Homo sapiens: one gene and its partners. The protein of the gene in region 3 interacts with the protein of the main gene of each other region in a pairwise test. Each region holds a gene or a part of one and is shown on either strand. Other genes may lie near its edges.

Region 1 (7,031 bases), on a different chromosome or scaffold from region 3:
TATTGGCATGTAACTTTAAGAACCACATAAATGTGTATTTTTGAAATAAAACGAATGTGTCTTGAATCCTTATACATTTTCTTACCAGTCCCATCTATTTTGTCTTTGATCCAAACTCCTAAATGTTTGTGCACACATTTCTCGGTGACAACGTTGGGAAACACAGCAACAGGACTTCATTATTCTGTTCCTTCCTGTCATTATGGAAACCAGCCATCAACCTATGGAGTGATGGCAGGTAAGAAAAGTTGTCTTTTACATGTTATTGAATTTGGGGACACTTAGATGGATTTTCTGGGCCTGAAAGAATTGTGATCAGAGTGTGACATGAAATTTGATTTCTTAACTTTGAAAATTACTGTTAAAAATCACCACTTCTTGTTTCCTGCTCTGTGACACCCACAGAGACCATAGGGGTTATACCTAATTTCCCTACTTACGTATCTCTGAACTGCTGTGCTTCTTGAGTTTGCTTTGTATGGTTTTTATTGAAATTCACTATCGTCAAACTGTTAGTTGTAACATGATGCTATTGGTAGGCTTACCTTCACTAAAAATATAGTAGCTACTAGACACGTGTGGCTATTTAAATTTAAATGTAAACTAGGTAAAATAAAACAAGATTTCAAATTCAGTTTCTCAGTTGCACTTGCTACATTTCAAGTGCTCTATAACCACATGTGGCTAGCGACTCCCATATCAGACAGCACAGGTTTACAGAACACCCCCCCTCATCATTATATTTCTTCTGGACCTTTGGTCCATAAACATAAATAAGACATTGATTGAAGCTAAGAGTGATTGGTAGGGGCTTTAGTGATAGCTGTTTCAGGCTTTAGCAGCCCTTTCTGAATTGCTTCTGAGTGAGTCTTAAGTGAGATTGAAATCATTGAAGTTACATACTTTTCTCCTATAGGTAAGTGAAGTATGACTGTATCAATTATGGCTACCTGCTTATTGATCCTTCTATAAAGGCATTGAAGCACAGTTTTTGAGGAATGCGTAGATCTGGCTTATGAGATCTATTCATCAAAAATTCTTGTTTAATTTCATGGCATGGCCACATAAGATTTTAATTGTTTTTAAAAAGTACACAGTTTTATTATGCGCAGGATTTTCATTTGTTGGTTTATTTTTAAGATAGCTTTAGGAGATATACCTAACGCTAAATGACAAGTTAATGGGTGCAGCGCACCAGCATGGCGCATGTATACATATGTAACTAACCTGCACATTGTACACATGTACCCTAAAACTTAAAGTATAATAATAATAAAAGAAAAGAAAAGAAATTCTTTGATATTTTATCTTTATTACTACAGCAGGAAAAGAATTCTTATTGATGACAAACTGTGTGAGTAAATGTGTGTGTGCGTGTGCATGGTGTGTGTGTATGTGTGTGATACTGAGGGAAAAACTGTGGATAAAGGAATCACTTATTAGGGAAATCTTTTCTAATTGACTTGTGTTTTGTTATGATACAGATAAGCAGTAAAAAAAAAAAACCGCAGACAAATATTGATTTATTCCTATAATTTTCAAGTAAAATGGAGCAAATAGTTTAATTTTAATTAAATTGTTTAACCTTTGATATCTCAAAATTTGTCCATGTAAGACTAAATAGAACATTAAAACTTTAAAATAATAATCCAGAAAAATATGAGCTTCTCCTACATTCTATCAAGCAACATTCTGAATAAACCAGTATCCTAACATTTATGGTTAAATGAAGACTGGTGTTCTTAACAATGACCTGTAAATCCTGACGTCTTTTTTTAAAAATTAAGAATTAAAGCCATATTTTTTCTTCCTCTCTGAAAATTGATTATTTATGATCAACATGCTTAATTAGTATTCATGGTTAATGAGAATAGCCCTCCTCAATGATGAACTACTGTCATTATAAAATAGTAAAATAAATGCGTTTAGCTACTGGAGGTGCGGGTGGATTGCTTTCTGTGGCCTTTACAGCATTTTGATTATGAGACAGGAAATGACAAACACATGCCACTGTTTCCTGGAGGAAAGACCTTACAGTTCATTTAGAGGAACTCCCAGGAACCAAGGTACATTGTTAGTTTCTCTCTTAACCCAGCACAGAGGCAGTCCCTGCCAGTTGATTGAGGTTGGCACCAAGATTAAAACCAGTCACAGAGCAGGGGCCAATAATCTCTGGCCCAAATACCTTCAGATAATTTTTGCTACCAACTCCCACCCTGCCTAATCAGAGAGGGCCACCACTGGCCTCGGGAGTTTGCAGCTGGCCTCAGAATTCTAACACCCTTACTGCTTCCAGGACTGGAGCCAATATGCCAATGTTCACATTGAGAGTGTTGGCAGCTCATGTCTTTCTGATACAAGTTTCCTCCAGCATGAACTCAGCAAACCCTCTTCCACGAACCTCTTCCTCATTTCAATTAAAATGTAAAGACCCCTGGAAGAGCCTTTCAAAATGATTCAAAACCCTGTCTTAGTGACATCAAGAGCAGAAGACTTACACCAAGGTCTGGAGCTATCACTGTGGTCTTAAGATTAAATATATTCTGTGACTGAAAGAAAAACTCACCATCACAAGCACAAAGATATTTGAATATTTTTGAGAGGGATTGTTAAATCCCTCTCAAAAATTTTGTTAAAATGTGATATGCTTTAAATGTCAGAATGTCTATATTGGGACATAATTCAGTATTAGCATTTGCTTCATGAGAGATTAGATCTTAGAGAATCTGAACTCTCCTGACTTTATCCCCAGTAAAGCTGCATAAATTGAGTTACAAAATACAGCAATTCAGAAATAAGAGAGAAAAGGTAAATAAGAGACAAATGTATAAAGTACACAATAGAAACCTTATTATGTCATCTGAATTTTCTGAGAAGTCTTAAGTCATTAATCAAATCAGCCCCTTGCACACAATCCACAGAAGTGTCTTAACAACAACAACGACACGGTGTCACATACTCTATATAAAAGTGAAGCTACAGGAAGAACTATATTTCTAAAATATGTGAAATTACTTTATTTTCATATGGTTATTTCATTACTCATACTCTGATGCTTACATTTAGTTTGAGCATTTCATTAAATTAATAACTCACAGGAAAAGAAGAGCTATAACTAATATTTTGTCAGGTTGGTAGGTAGAATTTTAATGATCAGATGAATCCACTGTACGTAATAGTCCAGGTGCAGGCAAAATAAAGAGAATGACTAATTGGGAGTAATGAATTATCCATGCCATTAACTAATTACTAACATTGTTCAAGTGATTAACACCTCTGAGTTCCAATCTCTTCATATCTACGTTGTGGTGGGTACTACAACTCTACTGGGGTTGAGTAGTAGCAAATTTGTGTCAGCTCAAAATGATTTCTCTTTTGCCCTTCTCTTCACGTACTCTTGCAGCTAAATTCCTTCTGTCCTTTCACTCCTGAGAACTTAGAGAATTCAAATCAACACCTTACAGTACAAATAATAGAAAACCTAGAATTACAGATGCTGTTCAAAGTCTCTCCTAGATAAACACAAAACAAAACAAAGTATCAAAAAAAAAGTTCTCAAAACTCTGACTCTTGGGTTTCTGAGATTGTTTCTGTTCTCCAGTATCTGAAGCAGAGTACAATTCAGGAAACAAGCTCAATGGGGGTTCACCCTTTCTGCTGTCCTGTGGAAACAGCAAATCAACCTCACTGTAATAAATGTTAAACCCACCATCTTTACATGATGTAGTGGCCAAACCAAGAAGTAGTGTGAAAGTCCTTGCTTTAAAAGTTAATTTCAAGGGGAAAACAAAACAAAACAAAACAAACAAACTTGTTTAAGTCCCAAACTCTTGGGACTTAAACAAGATGATGAGCATCCAATTCTTTTTCATGAGAAGTGGATATTAAAAGAAAAGATTGTTATGGCTGAAAATATTCTTGCTGCCTGGGCTAATACAGAAGAAAACGGAAATCAGCCTGGCAACTGACAGGGAGAAATAGTCTAGTCTATTTTTGGAACCCATCTTTTCATTTTTTGAAATTTGAAATTTTTTTTTCTTAATTTACTTCTTTTGTTTAGTTCTTTGTTTTATTTGGCCCTAAATTGTTCTGGTTGTAACAACTCTAAGGAAACAAGTAATTCTGAAGATCTTTTGCTTCCACATCGTGAAAGGTCTTTTGGTAGCAGTAACATGATGTATTTTCACTTCCAGACTAGGGGTTGGCAACCCTTTTCTGTAAAGAACCAGACAGTAAATATCTCAACCTTTCTAGTTTTTGTTGCAACTATTCAACCTGTCATTGTAGTAGGAAAGCAGTCACAGCCTGTGTGTAAAGAAATAGGCATTTCAAATTAAACTTAATTTACAAACACAGGCAATAGGCCCCAGTTGTACACGGATAGGATTTACCAATGCACAAGAGTGAAAAGATCACAGTGGAAGTTTATAATTTCCTTTGAATTTTTATGCCTAAGCAACAGAGGGGAATATATGGAAATATTCAGATACATGTTCCTGTGCATGTTACAAGCACAGCAGGGTGGCGTATTTTACTATGTCCCTCTGCTTCCCCTGTTTGTTTTTTTAAGGCATCAAGCCAGTAACGTGAGATGATGTTGTCAGCTAACCACATGCTGCAAAGATCAATTTGCCCCATGCTATGGTACATTGAGTCAGCGCCTAGTAAGGCATCCCTATCTCTGACCCCCATTGCCTGCTTTAAAAGATTTACCTCTGTTCTTCTCTCTCCTCTGTCACACAGAAATGCATACATAGCAATTTAGAAAGGCTCTGGTGAATTAATCTTCAATGTGAAAATGTATTTGGAACTACAGTGTGCAAACACTTCTGAGCTATGTGTGTGTGTGCTGTCCAGGCCTCAAGATAATTTTTCTTTATCCATGTTTCAGAAAATGTTGATGAGACCTCTGTCACACATGACTCACAACATCTTTTATCTTATTCCTACTTTTTGCAGTAATCTGGGTTTTAAAAAGATTTGAAAAACATATTGCTATACATATCATCCCAATCACTCTCCACACTCCCCCAAATGCAGGCTCAGATGCTAGAAACAGAGGTTCGTTTGGCTGTTCTTTTAAATTGTTGTGATGAAATTCTGTGTGAAGTTAGTTCCAGGAAATCTGTGACCTTGCAGATAATTGTAGATACTTTCATGCAATGAAAAATGAAAGTGAACCAGGTGCAGTGGCTCACAACTGTAATCCCAGCACTTTAGGAGGCCGAGGCAGGCAGATCACCTGAGGTCAGGAGTCCGAGAATAGCCTGGCCAATGTGGTGAAACCCTGTCTCTAAATAAAAAATTATAAATAAAAAATAAATTAAAAAATATAAAAATTAGCCGGGTGTGGTGGCAGGCACCTGTAGTCCCAGCTACTAGGGAGGCTGAGGCAGGAGAATTGCTTGAAGCTAGGAGGCATAGGTTTCAGTGAGCCGAGAGCACTCCAGCCTAGGGAACAAGAGCGAGACGCTGTGTCAAAAAAAAAAAAAAAAAAAAAGGGAAAGGGAAAAAAATAAAAAATGTATCACACATCACATTTTCCTTCTTGTTCTGGATGCCAAACCTTGGAGCATGGTATTTTCTGTGTACTTTTCATGGATTCCATTCAAATTTGTTTTCTGCGTGTCCACTTTCCCAGAGTACTTACAATGTATAAACTACCTTTCAATTTTTGTGGCTGGGTTCTGTGGCTTATACCTATAATTCTAGCACTACAGGAAGCTGTGGCTGGAGGATTGCTTGAAGCCAGGAGTTTTGAGACCAGCCTGGGCAACATAGTGAGATCCCGTCTGTGCAAAAAATTTAAAAAAGTAGATGAGCATGGCGGTGCATGCCTGTAGATTCTACTTAGGATGCTGAGGTGGGAGGATGGCTTGAGGCCAGAAATTTGAGATTGCAATGAGCTAAGATTTTACCACTGCACTCCAGTCTAGGAGACAGAGTGTGACCCCATCTCTAAAAATAAAGAATAAATAAGCAAACAAACAAATAAACAATTTTACGGAAACAGGGATGACACACTTTATATATATTTTATTGTAATATTTTTGTGGAACAGTGTTTGTTTAATATAGCCAAAGGTGTTTAAATGCAGAGAAAACCTTTTAAAGAGAAGTTATTTAATTTGCCTGAGTATAGACTGCCTGGAGAATGAACCGGGCAATGATTTTGATGTGGCTTACTGCAATGCTTATTAGACTTTAGTTCTGGTTTAAACTGCAAAGTTAATTCGTTGGGCACTGGAGGCAAGTTATTTACTTTCTTTCTACTTAAATTTCCTCCATTGTAAATTATGGGGAAAAATATATATCTTTCCTGACTCATTTTTTGTATAAGGATAAAGATGATAACAAATGTGAAATTAACACGACACAAAGTGTTGCATAGAAGATTTGTAGCAGTACATAATTATGATCAGCAAGAGAAATTGAAAATAATAATAATAATTGATAACAAATTTAGACCTTTTAGTATGCGTAAGTAAAAAACACACAAATTTTTTATATAAAATAAACATAATTTGACATAGGTTAAATGAGTTATCTAAAGTGTCTTAAAATATGTTAAATGTACAAAATCTAACAGTAGCCTGGCTTTTCTTTGTACTCTTTCTCAGGGTATTTTATCATTAAATGTATTAAGTGATACCTGATGGACCTAAATAATCAAAGAAGTGAAGGTTTTATAAATATATGTGAGAATCAATTCTGAAAGCATAAGCACAAAACAAGTCTTCAGATAAATATGAGATTAAATAAATGATAACATAAATGTCATCAATTTTCTTTTACATCTATTAGTCCTTCTTTTAATTTAGCAGAAAATTAAAATTAATAAAAAGCTAAAAATAAACCCCACGGCAATAAATATTTTCAAGAAAAGCTATATAATAAAAGAAAAGTTGGTAAAATTGCTTTTAAAAATGTTCTCTTGTCTGATCAAGATGCCACACAATAAAGCATAAAATGGATAGTTAACTGACTTTTACAAAAGTAAACCTGGATAATTTTGGTTTGTAAAAGTAGCAG
Region 2 (4,814 bases), on a different chromosome or scaffold from region 3:
ACGAGGCACGTCAACACTGGTCTCACTCACATGGCAACCACCAGGGAAGCTGTGTGCAGGATGCCCTCTTTAGGTGGGACAAGACATTCTATTCGCCACAGTCCCCATCACTCCCTATCGCCTCCCTGACCCAGAGGCAAAGGGTCAGTTGTCATTTAGCATCTTATACCCAGCTCAGCCCCCGTTGTTTATGTGCCTGCCTGGTACCTGGGGGGATCCGGATTTGAGACTGTGCTCACAGCTCTTCTGGTTCTATGATCCTCTAGGCTTATTCCATGTGGCTAACGGTCATGATTCAAACATTCCATTTTCTCATGTTTGATGAATTCTGCATGTCTGAACTCCACTGTATCTAAACTAGGATGTGATGTCCCCATCATCTAGAAGTTCTACCTTGATCCCAGGTAGCTGAGTCCTGCCACACAGGCCCCTTCCCTGCAAATGAGTCAGGCAGGGCGCCTCCATTGAGAGGGCTGCTGGGAGTGGAGAAAGTGAAGAAAGTGAGACAGGAGGCCCCCGGTTGCATCTCCTCTGCCCCTCCCATCCCCTCCTCCAGTGTGGTCCCGGAACAGCAAGCCCGTGCACACCACCATCCTGAATCCCCACATCCACCTGATGGGCGACGAGTCAGCCTGCATCGCCTACATCCGCATCACGCAGTACCTGGACGCTGGCGGCATCCCACGCACCGCCCAGTCGGAGGAGACCCGTGTCTGGCACCGCCGGGATGGCAAATGGCAGATCGTCCACTTCCACAGATCTGGGGCGCCCTCCGTCCTGCCCCAGTAAGAATCCCTCCTTCCTGCCTCCCAGGGTAATGTAAAGGATGGGAGTGTTGCCCTGGAGGGGGTTACGTCGGGGAAGCTGCTGCCTTCAGCTCTGAAAGGCTGCAGAGTGGGGTGGGGAGACCCCAAGAAGGGGGCCAGGCCTGCAGGTCTGGGGGAAGAGCTGGGCAGGAGCCACCAGGGACCGCATGGACTCCATCTAAAGCGGCAGGGTGGGTGGGTTGCCCAAGCAGGAAACACCATGCCCTGAGAAGCACCCCGTGTGTGTCTTACAGCTGAGGGACCAGGCTGGGGTCGCTGCGTTGCTGTGCCGCAGAGATCCACTCTGTCCGTGGAGTGGAGCTGCTGGTTCTCCCAGGTGGATTTTGCTGGAATTCTCCCATGTCATCACCCCACCACCGTCACTTCTGTACCTGCATCAAGAAAACCTGCTTGTTCACAAAAGTCATCGCAACTTCAGAGCGAACGGCCACATCTCCCCACCTCTCACCCCCACCCTCTCCCCTGCCAGGCTGGGGCTTCCTCAGGCATGGGTGTCCACAGCACTGGCCCCCTCTCCCCAGCCTCAGCTGCTGTCCGCCTGATCTGTCTTGGGCTGTAGGCTAGAATGCCCGGGCTGGTGCCCACCAGGGGCTGGGGAGAAGGAGGGGTGGCATGATGAGGAAGGCAGCATCCGTCCGTCCCTCTCCCAGACCTCTCCTCTTCCAGTGTCCCCGGGGAAGGGCAGATGACACTCCCTTCCCCCTAAGCCAACCGCACTGAAGGAGTGGGGAGAAGAGCATACGCCAGGAGCCTCCTGCCTCAAAGTGCTCCCCTAAGTCTTCTTCCTCCTGTGCTGACCTCAGGGTGGTCTGACCCTTCCCTCGGTGTGGGGGATGTGGCCCTCTCAGGTGCCCCTACTTGCTTTCTGCTTCCTTCTGGTGAAGTCCACCTCCAACATTAACCTGCCCACCCCACCCCCGTCATCCCTGGAGAATTCCAGCTTTGTCGTATCTCAGAGAGGGAATCTAATTGTTTTTGGGGGGCAAAAGAAAGCAACGTTTAGGTATCACTTCTACTTGGACCGCATGCCTTTTTATAGCCAAATTTCTGTGTATTTCGTAAATGGATTTCGCGTTAATGGATATTTATGTAATAACTAGACTTCTCAGATTATTGTGAGAAGGGTCAGGTTGGAAGGGGTGTAGGAAGAGGGGTGAGGGGTAGTTTTTTTCTGTTCTAGTTTTTTTTTTTTTTTTTGTCATCTCTGAGGTGGACCTTGTCACCTGTGGTTATTGGGGCCAAGGTGGACTCAGCTCCGGGGAGAAGGGCCTCTCTGCCATTTCGGTCCCAAGGTGAGCTGACACAGGCGTTCCTTTTGGGACTGTGGAAGCATCAGATGCCAGCACTGACTCAGGAACAGCAAGTCAGGGCAGAGAGGAGGAGGGAGGCTGTCAGGATGGAAATACCTGGACTTTTCTTTGCTTCCCTCGCAAACTGGGGTCTTCTCTACCGAACTTCCCAGGATTTCATCTCACCATATCTGTGTGCCGCCCCCAGCACCCCCCACCCACCTCTGGGGGGCCCGTGAGCGTGTGTCTTCATTGCCTCTCTCCCCTTGGCGTCTGATGACCACAGCAAAGCACTGGGAATTTCTACTCTTCATGCCTCATCCTGCAGCCTCGGGTTCGCATTCTCTCTTTCTTTTCCTCTTTCCCTCTTTCCCTGGGATTGACTCTGAGTGGAATACCTTGGCACATCCACTAGGATCTACTGTCTGCACTGTTTTCTTTGCATGACTTTATACGCAGTAAGTATGTTGAAAACAAACAAAAAGAAGAAAACACTCAACAAAACCAATCTACATGTTTTGGACTAAAAAAAAAAATAGAGGTTGTATTCTCAGTGTCCGACTCGGAATTATGTTGCTGCCTCTCTGTGCTTTTGGCCTCTGTGTGGCCGTGTTTTGCCAGCATGAGATACTGTCCCCTCTGGAGGATTTTAGGGGAGGAAGAGCCACGTCCCCAGGGATTGGAGGAGGCTCCGGTACCCTCGACCCTCCTGGGTGTTGGTTGGAGCAGAACTGGTGAGGATGTTTGATCCGAGATTTTCTGAGCTCTCCCCAATCACCAGCTGTCTGCTGGGTTCTTTTCTCAAGTCCTGCTGCCCAGGCCCAGGTGAGACAGGCAACGCCAGGTCTGCAGGCCAGGAGAGATGCTGCCCAGGCCTCCTGGTTTCCAAGCTGGTCCATCACTGGCCTCTGTCCTTGGCAGAGACCTTGCTGCCCAGGCCCAGGGGCAGGCTCTTGGCCTGCCCCAGGCCCAGAGGGCTTCCCAGTAAGGCCCAGTGATCCCATTATCCCAGGGGCAAAACCACCTGTCCCCTTTTGAGCTGCCAGTTCCCTACAGCCATCCCCAGTCAAGGGTGAGGGTGTGGCCTTCACCAGGGGCTGCTGTAATTACCGAGCAAGGTCTGAGCTCTTCTTCAGCCTCAGTTCCCTCATTGGTTAAAAGGGTTCTTTGTTCCCATCCAGCCGATGAAGGAGCAAACGTCTGGCTATGTGAAGCCTAATTTACCTGCAGGAACTGGCAGGGATAGTCACTGGCTGGACTCCTGTTTACTTCTAGACCTGGTCAGGCTCCATCCCCTCCCCCACCTGCCCCTGATTCCCCTCGTCGGTGCCTGTCAACTGCTTTTCAGCAGTGGACTGCAGGGGAAAGAGCAGTGATTTGGGGTGAGTAGGCTTCAATTCCCAGCTCTGACCAGACTTGCTGTGTGACCTTGGGCAAGTTCCTTTCCCTCTTTGGAGCTTGGTTTCCCTGCCAGAGGAAACTGAGCTGGAGGAGCCTGAGGTCCTGCCTTTCATTGGCTGACACACCTCCTGTCCACTGTGTCACTCTCCAAGTGCCAGAGAAGTGGAGGCAGATCGCTACCCCAGGCTGAGATGGCCCCCACTGTGAAGGCCACGCCTGTGGGTGGGCAGCCACCTGGTGCCACCACAGGGCACCAGGGATGATCCTGATGTGGCAGGCAGGGGAGACTCACAGAAAAATCTGCCCAGAGCCTACCCTCACCAGACAAACTCTGTGCTCCTCCAAAACATCCTTTAGATGCAAAATAATAATAATAATAATAATAAATAAATAAATAAAAATCCAAACCCAAGTCAAAACCTTGGCTCCAGCATGAAAACACGTTTACAGGAAAGTGTTCTCCTGGGTTTGTGCCCACCATGGTGCGAATCCTGACCCAAGGCCTCCTGTCTCCCTTCAAAGGGAGACCCTTTTGGGGGATGAGTTTGCCAGACTCCCCGTGCTGGTTTCTTTGTTACTATTTGTTTGGGGTTTTGTTTTAGTTCTTTTTTTTTTTCTTTTCTTTTTTAAAAATATGTGGCTGTGAACTTGAATGAACACTGCTCAAACTTTCTGCTATTGGGGGGGGCGGGTGGGATGGGAAGAAGGGGCGTTTGTTTTATTCTTGGTGTTTTCAGTGCAATAAATAGCTACAAACTTCTGTGCACTCTGTGTGTCCCTGTCTTGGTCAAGCCCCTGAGCTGGGAGGTTTTTGTTAGTTTCCAGTTCCAGATCTGCCCCATGGCAAAATAAAAGTCCTGGTCTTCATTCTGATTGGACCAACTGTGGTCACATGCTCAAGGCTGAGCCAGTCACTGTGGGATTATGCCTGGACCACATGCCCCACCTGTAGAGCCAGGGATGGGGTCAGCTTTCTCCCAGGCACATGGGGGTACCCTCAACAAGAGCAAAGGGGTGGCTATGGGTTGCCTGAGCAGCCAAGAGCTAAAGCCTCTCTTGGGCCCTGGGGCAAGGTTCTTCTCCTCTGGGCCTCAGTTTCCCTGTACAATGTGGAGGTTATTCCACAAGTCCCCCACCCATTCTCTTCCCTCAGCCCAGCCTCACAGATGAGTGCTCAGGACTCACCATGCCAGAGAGTGCTTTAAAGAATGGGGAAGGGGAGGAAGGGTCTCTTTACCCATAAACATATGTCTGGACCTAGTGCCTGGGACACTTTGGTCCTTGGAGCCCGAGCTGC
Region 3 (7,031 bases):
GTGGAAAGCCAGAAGTAGGTTGGTGGGGAGTTCTCAGCAAGGAGGAAGTAGGGGCCAAGGGCCTGACAGACAGCAGCAAACTCCCCCTTGGCATCCAGACAAGTCATTCTCTCCCCGAGGGGCAGCAGAGGTCCCAGGAGGGCCACAGGCCAGTGCCCCCAAGCAGACAGGACACACACACACACACACACACAGTGGCACCTTACAGCTAGACACACACACACACAGCAGCACCTTACAGCTAGAGACACACACCCACACACAGACACACACAACAGCAGCTCAGAGCCAGAGAGGAAACCAAGTCCGCAGGTAAAAATTATACTTTTATTTGAGTCACCAGGAGAAAGATTCACTTGTGGTTCAAGTCAAATGTTCAGAATCATAACAGGCCAGAAAGGTTTGATCCCGAGCACAAGCCCACGAGGGAGGGGACCAAAACAGACCAAAATGAGACAACAACCCCATATAAAAAGATGAACTGGCGGCTTCACACACTCACACACATACACATACACACGGATGAAATGTTTGGACAGAGGCAAATTTCACGTGGTCATTTCTGTTTCTTTTTAAATACAGGTTTGTAGGGTGGTATTTTGTTTTTTCCAGCTATAAAAAAAGGCCCAAAAGTGCATGTGTGAGGGGGGAAAGGCAGAAATTAAGCAATAAAGTCATTTTCCCTGGAGGGACATGAGAGGGAGAAAACAGGAGGCAGTGCTGGGAGAACGCACTTTCCTCACCACTGGGCTTCTTGTTATTCTTAGTATTGGTCCACAAAAGTTATATTCACATTCTAGCTTTGATGCCTCTTTCCTGGGATTAAATGAGCTGAAAGACCTCTGTGAACTGTAGAGAAGACCAGGGGCTCAGCCCAGCCCAGCCCAGCCCCTCAGGGCTCTGTGCTCTTCTAGGGATGGATGGTTTTGGTAAAGAACAGACGCCCAGCAGCCCCCGGTCACTCAGCACCAGTGTGACAGTCCCTCCTCTCTCTGGGGGTGTGTAAGAAAACGGCCCCTATTTTTAGGACAGGAAGAGTAGAGGGAGGGCCTGCAGCAAGATTCCATGACTGGCTTGCCTTATCTGGGAAGGAGAATTAAGCTGAGTGAAAACAGGCTGCTTCTTGCTGCTCCTCCCTTCCACTCACCACTCTCCCAAACTCAGGTCCTCTAAGGGGATGTGTCCCTGACCTTTGGTCCCCAAATCCACATTGTGCTTTGAGATCAAGAGGAAACAGAATGCACCAGCGCCACCCAAGACTCCCAAGAGATTCTCTGCCTCCCCGAGCCCCCAAATCGCCCAATATAAGATATTCCACTTGCCTCCACCTAGGCTGGGGCCAGAAAGGAAAAGGGATGGGTCAGGCAGGGCCTCCCCACCCACAGTCTTTTCCTCAACCTCTCATTCGGGGCAAACATCCCCAAATCAATTAACAAGCAGTTGACAAAAACACCCATGATGACTGATTGTTGAACAGGCCAATACCTTCAGGTCCTGCCCCTCACCTGTGGGTACAAGTGTGCCAAGGGACAAGAGGCCAATGGCAGGGCCTGGTTGGGCTCAGGATGAAAATGGGATGGGGACTCCCAGAGGGTGGCAAGAAAACCAGAGATGAATCAAGTGAGGCCAGGGTTGTCACAGCCACCCATGAGCAGAGAGCAGGAACTGGATATAGCACCGTCTTTCCCTCCCCATCCCCGAGGCTGTGCTTCCAGTTTTGCAGCCCTGGGACCCTCTTTCTTGCTTCAAGGGAGCTTTATGTAAGTGAGGGGGAGGTCTAGGGGAAGAGCCCCCGAGGGAGACACCCACAGGGTGACACTTCTGCCACCCTATTCTGTAGCCCCAGACAGAGATGGGGAAACATATGCCTGGAGTGACAGAGCCTTCCTCCACCGCTTAGCCCCAGCAGGCTGCAGACCCTATGGCAGCCCCAACTCCACACCAACCTCTTACCTTCCACCCTGCACACTGCAAAGGGCAGATTGGTGGGCTTCCTCCACTCAGAGATGGGGGGAAGGAGGAATTTCATTCCAAAGAAAACCTAAGGAACTTCTCTGCCCCAGGAGCCCTCCCCTCTCACTGTGGGTTCTGAGGAAACTCTCAGGGGAAGACAGCTCTTCATACCCTCACATAACCCCACCCACACACAGGCCCAGAGACACCTACAGACACACCCCCGCCCCATCTCTCACACTCACACTCACACACTTGCGTGTCAGACACCTGCAGACATACATGCTCCTGCCTCCGCACACCAGGTCTTGGAGATTTAGTGGTCCCTGCTGACTTTGTGCAGCTCCAAGTCCACTTGGCATTGGGCTGGGGAGGGGAGGTCATGGAAGGCTCTGAGACATCTTCCCATGAGGAGCAGGGAGGAGCGGCCACCTAACCCAGATCCTGGGGGCTGAGGGAGGCTGAAGACCAAAAGGTCCTGAGGCACCCTTGCCCTACACTTCGGGACCATGGCTTCCAGCCTAGGAGGCAGGCAAGGGTCCCTGGAGACTGGGGGTGGGCGTGGGGAAAGGGGCTGCGGAAGAGAACTCCTTGTTCCCCTCCTTCCGGTAGCTGTCCCTAAAATTAAGAAAGGCAAGAACCTGACCCAAGCTGTGCTTCCTCGGGAGCTCTTTGCCCGCTGCAGGTCTGCGTGGGCAGGAGGGCAAAATCACAGTGTGCGAAGGAACGCGCGGGGAGGGGATGAATTCGCCCCACAGCAGGAACCCCATTCTCCTGTTGTTGCCCCTGAGGAGGGAGGTAGGGAGAGAGACCCCAGGTGGGCAGAGCCCCCTCTTTGAGAAAGAGAGGTAGAGCCCATCCCACTGGTCCCTACACAGCGGCAGAGTCCCCATCGCCATCCCAGGAACCAAGAAGTGGATCCCACTCTGGGGAATGTAGGGAGCCCCTGACCTGGGGTCCTGGCAGTCAGGCTCACCCCAGCCCTGGAATGTGTGGGTATGTGAGGAGCTGGGCAGGAGGATGTGAGGGGAGAGAACAGAGGGGCAGGTGAGGCCCACAGGCCAACAGGTCTCCCATTCCAGCCCTGCCTCCCCCAGAGAGGCCCATGCCCGTTCCATCCAGAGAGAAAACCAAGAAGTCGATCAAGGGGGAAGCCTGCCAGAGGAGGGAGCCCGCAGAAGTGGCAGAAGAAGGCTTCAGTTGGCAAAAGAAGCTGGAAGAGGGGTAGGAATCACAAGCTGTCGCAGGTTTTAAAAAACAGAGACACTGAAGAATGGACGGGTCACGCCCAGGACGGATGCGATGCCGTGGAATGTGCTGAAGACAGATGGGGGCGCTGCGGGTTCAGATGGCCTCCACGTAGTTGGCCGGCAGCATCCCCGTGTCGCCGGTGCGCTCCACCGTCCCGTACATCCAGCCGTCGTCGATCTGCTGCACGTTGACGATGGTGTCCCCGTCCTGGAAGGAGACCTCGTCCTCGTCGGCGGCGCTGTAGTCATACACCGCGCGGTACCGCTTCTGTGGGGGAAGTGTGGTCAGCCTAGGGCCCTGCATGCCGGCTCACCTGGGTCTGAGCATTTTTTTCTAACTCTCCACGACCCTGGAGCAGAGCCTGGGGGAGCAGTGAACTCAGAAATGGAGCACCAGGCTCTGCTGCAAAGATTCTTAACCTCTGTGTCTTGCTTTCTGAGAGCAATCGATCTTTTACAACCTTTGGCAGCTACTAAGGGCCAGAGGCAGAGCAGGGACCGGGTCACATCAGCTCTGCCCCACCTCCCTGAACAGGACTGCAGTAAGGTCCACCAGCCATGATGACAGAGTAATGTCTAAAAATACGACATGCAGGCCAGGTGCAGTGGCTCACGCCTGTAATCCCAGCACTGTGGGAGGCCAAGGCAGGAGAACTGCTTGAGCCCAGAAGTTTGAAATCAGCCTGGGAAACACAGTAAGACCCCCCAACTCCCTCTTTTTTTTTTTTTTTTTGAGATGGAGTCTTGCTTTGTCACCCAAGCTGGAGTGCAATGGTGTGATCTTGGCTCACTGCAACATCCGCCTCCCGGGTTCAAGCGATTCTCCTGCCTCAGCCTCCCAAGTAGCTGGGACTATAAGCGTGTACCACCATGCCCGGCTAATTTTTGTACTTTTTTGTAGAGACAGGGTTTCATCATGTTGGCTACGATGGTCTCAAACTCCTGGTCTCAAGTGATCCGCTCGCCTCGGCCTCCCAAAGTACTAGCGTGAGCCCATCTCAACAAAAAATAAAAAATTAGTTAGGCTTAGTGGTACATGCCTGTAGTCTCAGCTACTCAGGAGGCTGAGGTGGGAGGATGGCTTCAACCCAGGAGGTTAAGGCTGCAGTGAGCTAGCTGTGATTGCACCACTGCTGCACTCCAGCCTGGGCAGCAGAGCAAGACCCTGTCTCAAAAAAGAAAAAAAAAACAGAAAAAACATGCCCTGTATGCTATTATTTGTATGATTATAAGCACCAGTAGTTTCTTTTAGAAGCCATGATGAGTCCTGTCCAAGTTCAGGACAAAGATCTTTCCTTGGGAGAAAAATCTTCAGAGGACAGAAGACGAGTCTATCAGGTTCCACCTTCCAAGCCTCAGCCAAAATCTGCCGCTTAAGCCCTAGATCTAGGTAATGTTCAGTAAGGCACACAAAAACCTACAGCGCCACCTACTACCAGGATGGAGTTTAAAAAAAGAAAGAGGAAAAAAAAAAGAAAAATAAATCCTATAGCTATAGACAACATTCTACCTCCCCTGACCTTCACTGCCCTTGACTGGTCTCTGAGGCTCCACAGGACAGTTTGAAACCAACAGGTCTATGGGATAAGAAGTCACACCTCCCATGAAGTAACCTCAGTCTCTCTCATCACCAATTCTGCCTCTATCTTGGGCTGAGCCACTCCCATCCATGCCTATATCCTGCAACAGCCTCCTGACGGTCTCCCTGCTTCTACCCTCAAACCACTGCCTCTTCTCAACACAGCTGCCAGGGTGGTCTTCCAAAAACCTATGTCGCTCTGCACAGATCACAGGTCACAGAGGCCTTCCTGGGGCCCACAAGTCCCTGCATAATCGGACCTCCCACCCTCTCCCACTCTAGTCAATTCGGGCTTCCTGCTGCTCCCTGAACTTTCCTAGAATATTCCTGCCTCAGAGCCTTTGCACTTCCTGTCCTCGTTGCACGGCTCACTCCTTCCTTTATTGAGGACTTTGCTCAAATGTCACGTCTTTTTTTTCTTTTTTTTTTTCTAGCTGGAGTTTTGCTCTTGCTGCCCAGGCTGGAGTGCAAATGGCGTGATCTCGGCTCACTGCAACCTCCACCTCCCAGGTTCAAGCAATTCTCCTGCCTCAGCCTCCCGAGTAGCTGGGATTATGAACATGCACCACCATGCCGAGCTAATTTTATATTTTTAGTAGAGACAGGGTTTCACCATGTTGGCCAGGCTGGTTTCGAACTCCTGACCTCAGGTGATCTGCCCACTTTGGCCTCCCAAAGTGCTGGGATTACAGGTGTGAGCCATCGCACCCGGCCAAATGTCTTTTTTCTTTGGAGATATTGCTCTGTCACCCAGGCTGGAGTGCAATAGTGCAATCTTGGCTCACTGCAACCTCTGCCTCTCGGGTTCAAGCAATTCTACTGCCTCAGCCTCCCGAGTAGCTGGGATTACAGGTTACAGGCATACACCACCACACCTGGCTAATTTTTGTATTTTTGGTAGACAGGGGGTTTCACCATGTTGGCCAGGCTGATCTCGAACTCCTGACCTCAAGTGACCTGCCCGCCTTGGCCTCCCAAAGTGCTGGGATTACAGGCGTGAGCCACCACCCCCGGCCAAATGTCTTAATCCAGCTGCTTTCTATCCATCCCTCACCCTGCTGTCTTTCTCTTCACAGCGTGTCACCGCTGACCTTATGTTATACACCTATTTTCTTATTGTTTTCTTGTTTGTCCCCCTGACTGGAATGTAAGCCCCCAGAGGGCAGAGAGGTGGCTTTATATTCAGAGATGGACCCTACACATCCAGGACAGACCCATTGAGGAGGGAGGGACTGGCTGGGCTGCCTGGAACCTTATACTTCAGACTAACTCTTGCGCCCACAGTGCCCTGGGCAGTCCTAACATCCCTTTGTTTGTGTGCCCAGAGCATCAGACTCCAGCCAGCCATTATCTCAGGCGATTTTATCTCTCTAAGTATCTGTTCTGCTCCTACGTGAGCTACTTTGAATTCCCAGGCACCCAGCCTGGAGGCGCTGAGCCTGCCAGGAGCTTGGTAAGGGTGGCTCAGCGGCACCCATGGGTGGAGTGAGTGGCAGGACTTACAGAGCCGGGACTTCAGCTCTGAGGGCTCAGGAAGCCTGATCTCACCCCATTCCTGCTGGGCTTATTCACTTGCTCTAGGCCTGGCTCAGAGTAGGTGAACCAGACGGACGCTGCCAGGGTCCCCAGCCCAGCAGGGGACACAGAGAAGGTGACCAACACGAAGAGCTCTTTTTAGTTGGAAAAAGTGCTCTGAAGGCAGCCAGCGGAGTCGAGTGATGCAAAGCATCAGGGTGATGCGCTTTACACGACATGGCTGGGGAGGCCCCTCAGAGGCAGGGGCAGCCTGAGAGCTGAAGGATGTGGGGGCCATCCTCATGAAGCGAGGAGAGCAGCGCCCAGTGCTGGAAGGCCCCATGCAGAAAGTTGCCTTGTGTGTTCCCAGGTAGCTGGGGTAAGGAAACCCCACCCAAAGCAGGGTGAGCAACCTGCCCATGGTACACCAGGGCTGGAACGCAGGGCCCCAGTCCCAGCCAGCCTCTGCCCACTACGCCAACCAATTTCCTCTCTGCTCACAAGGCTGAGATCCTTATCATCACACACAACAGAGGGTGGGTGCAAAGGTCAGGAGAATCCATGAGCTGTGTCCAAGCCTTCCCGAAGGACCCCCTGCCTCTGGCCTCTCCCCTCCGGCCAGGGTTACTCACCCCGCCACCACCTGGGGCGCTGCGCTGTATGGAGACTGGGGCTGCAGGCTCCTTGTAGCCACCATAGGACTGGGCCACCGGCTGCTGCTGGGGCTGCTGGTA

The links. Proteins that work in one complex are often made in the same cells at the same time.
Region 1: the proteins of LASP1 (region 3) and POU1F1 interact in binary tests that used the Homo sapiens proteins (3 or more experiments, as listed by UniProt).
Region 2: the proteins of LASP1 (region 3) and CAMK2A interact in binary tests that used the Homo sapiens proteins (3 or more experiments, as listed by UniProt).

The regions. Positions count from the first base shown.
Region 1 is NC_000003.12:87,266,554-87,273,584, reverse strand, and holds part of POU1F1 (pituitary-specific positive transcription factor 1), read left to right. Parts: intron 1-88; coding exon of another isoform or gene 89-166; coding exon 167-238; intron 239-7,031. UniProt on the Homo sapiens protein: Transcription factor involved in the specification of the lactotrope, somatotrope, and thyrotrope phenotypes in the developing anterior pituitary. Specifically binds to the consensus sequence 5'-TAAAT-3'. Activates growth hormone and prolactin genes.
Region 2 is NC_000005.10:150,218,960-150,223,773, reverse strand, and holds the end of CAMK2A (calcium/calmodulin-dependent protein kinase type II subunit alpha), read left to right. Parts: intron 1-556; coding exon 557-785; coding exon of another isoform or gene 786-789; exon of another isoform or gene 790-814; intron 815-1,060; coding exon 1,061-1,064; 3' UTR 1,065-4,283; downstream 4,284-4,814. UniProt on the Homo sapiens protein: Calcium/calmodulin-dependent protein kinase that functions autonomously after Ca(2+)/calmodulin-binding and autophosphorylation, and is involved in various processes, such as synaptic plasticity, neurotransmitter release and long-term potentiation.
Region 3 is NC_000017.11:38,915,045-38,922,075, reverse strand, and holds the end of LASP1 (LIM and SH3 domain protein 1), read right to left. Parts: coding exon 6,930-7,031; intron 3,472-6,929; coding exon 3,298-3,471; 3' UTR 306-3,297; downstream 1-305. UniProt on the Homo sapiens protein: Plays an important role in the regulation of dynamic actin-based, cytoskeletal activities.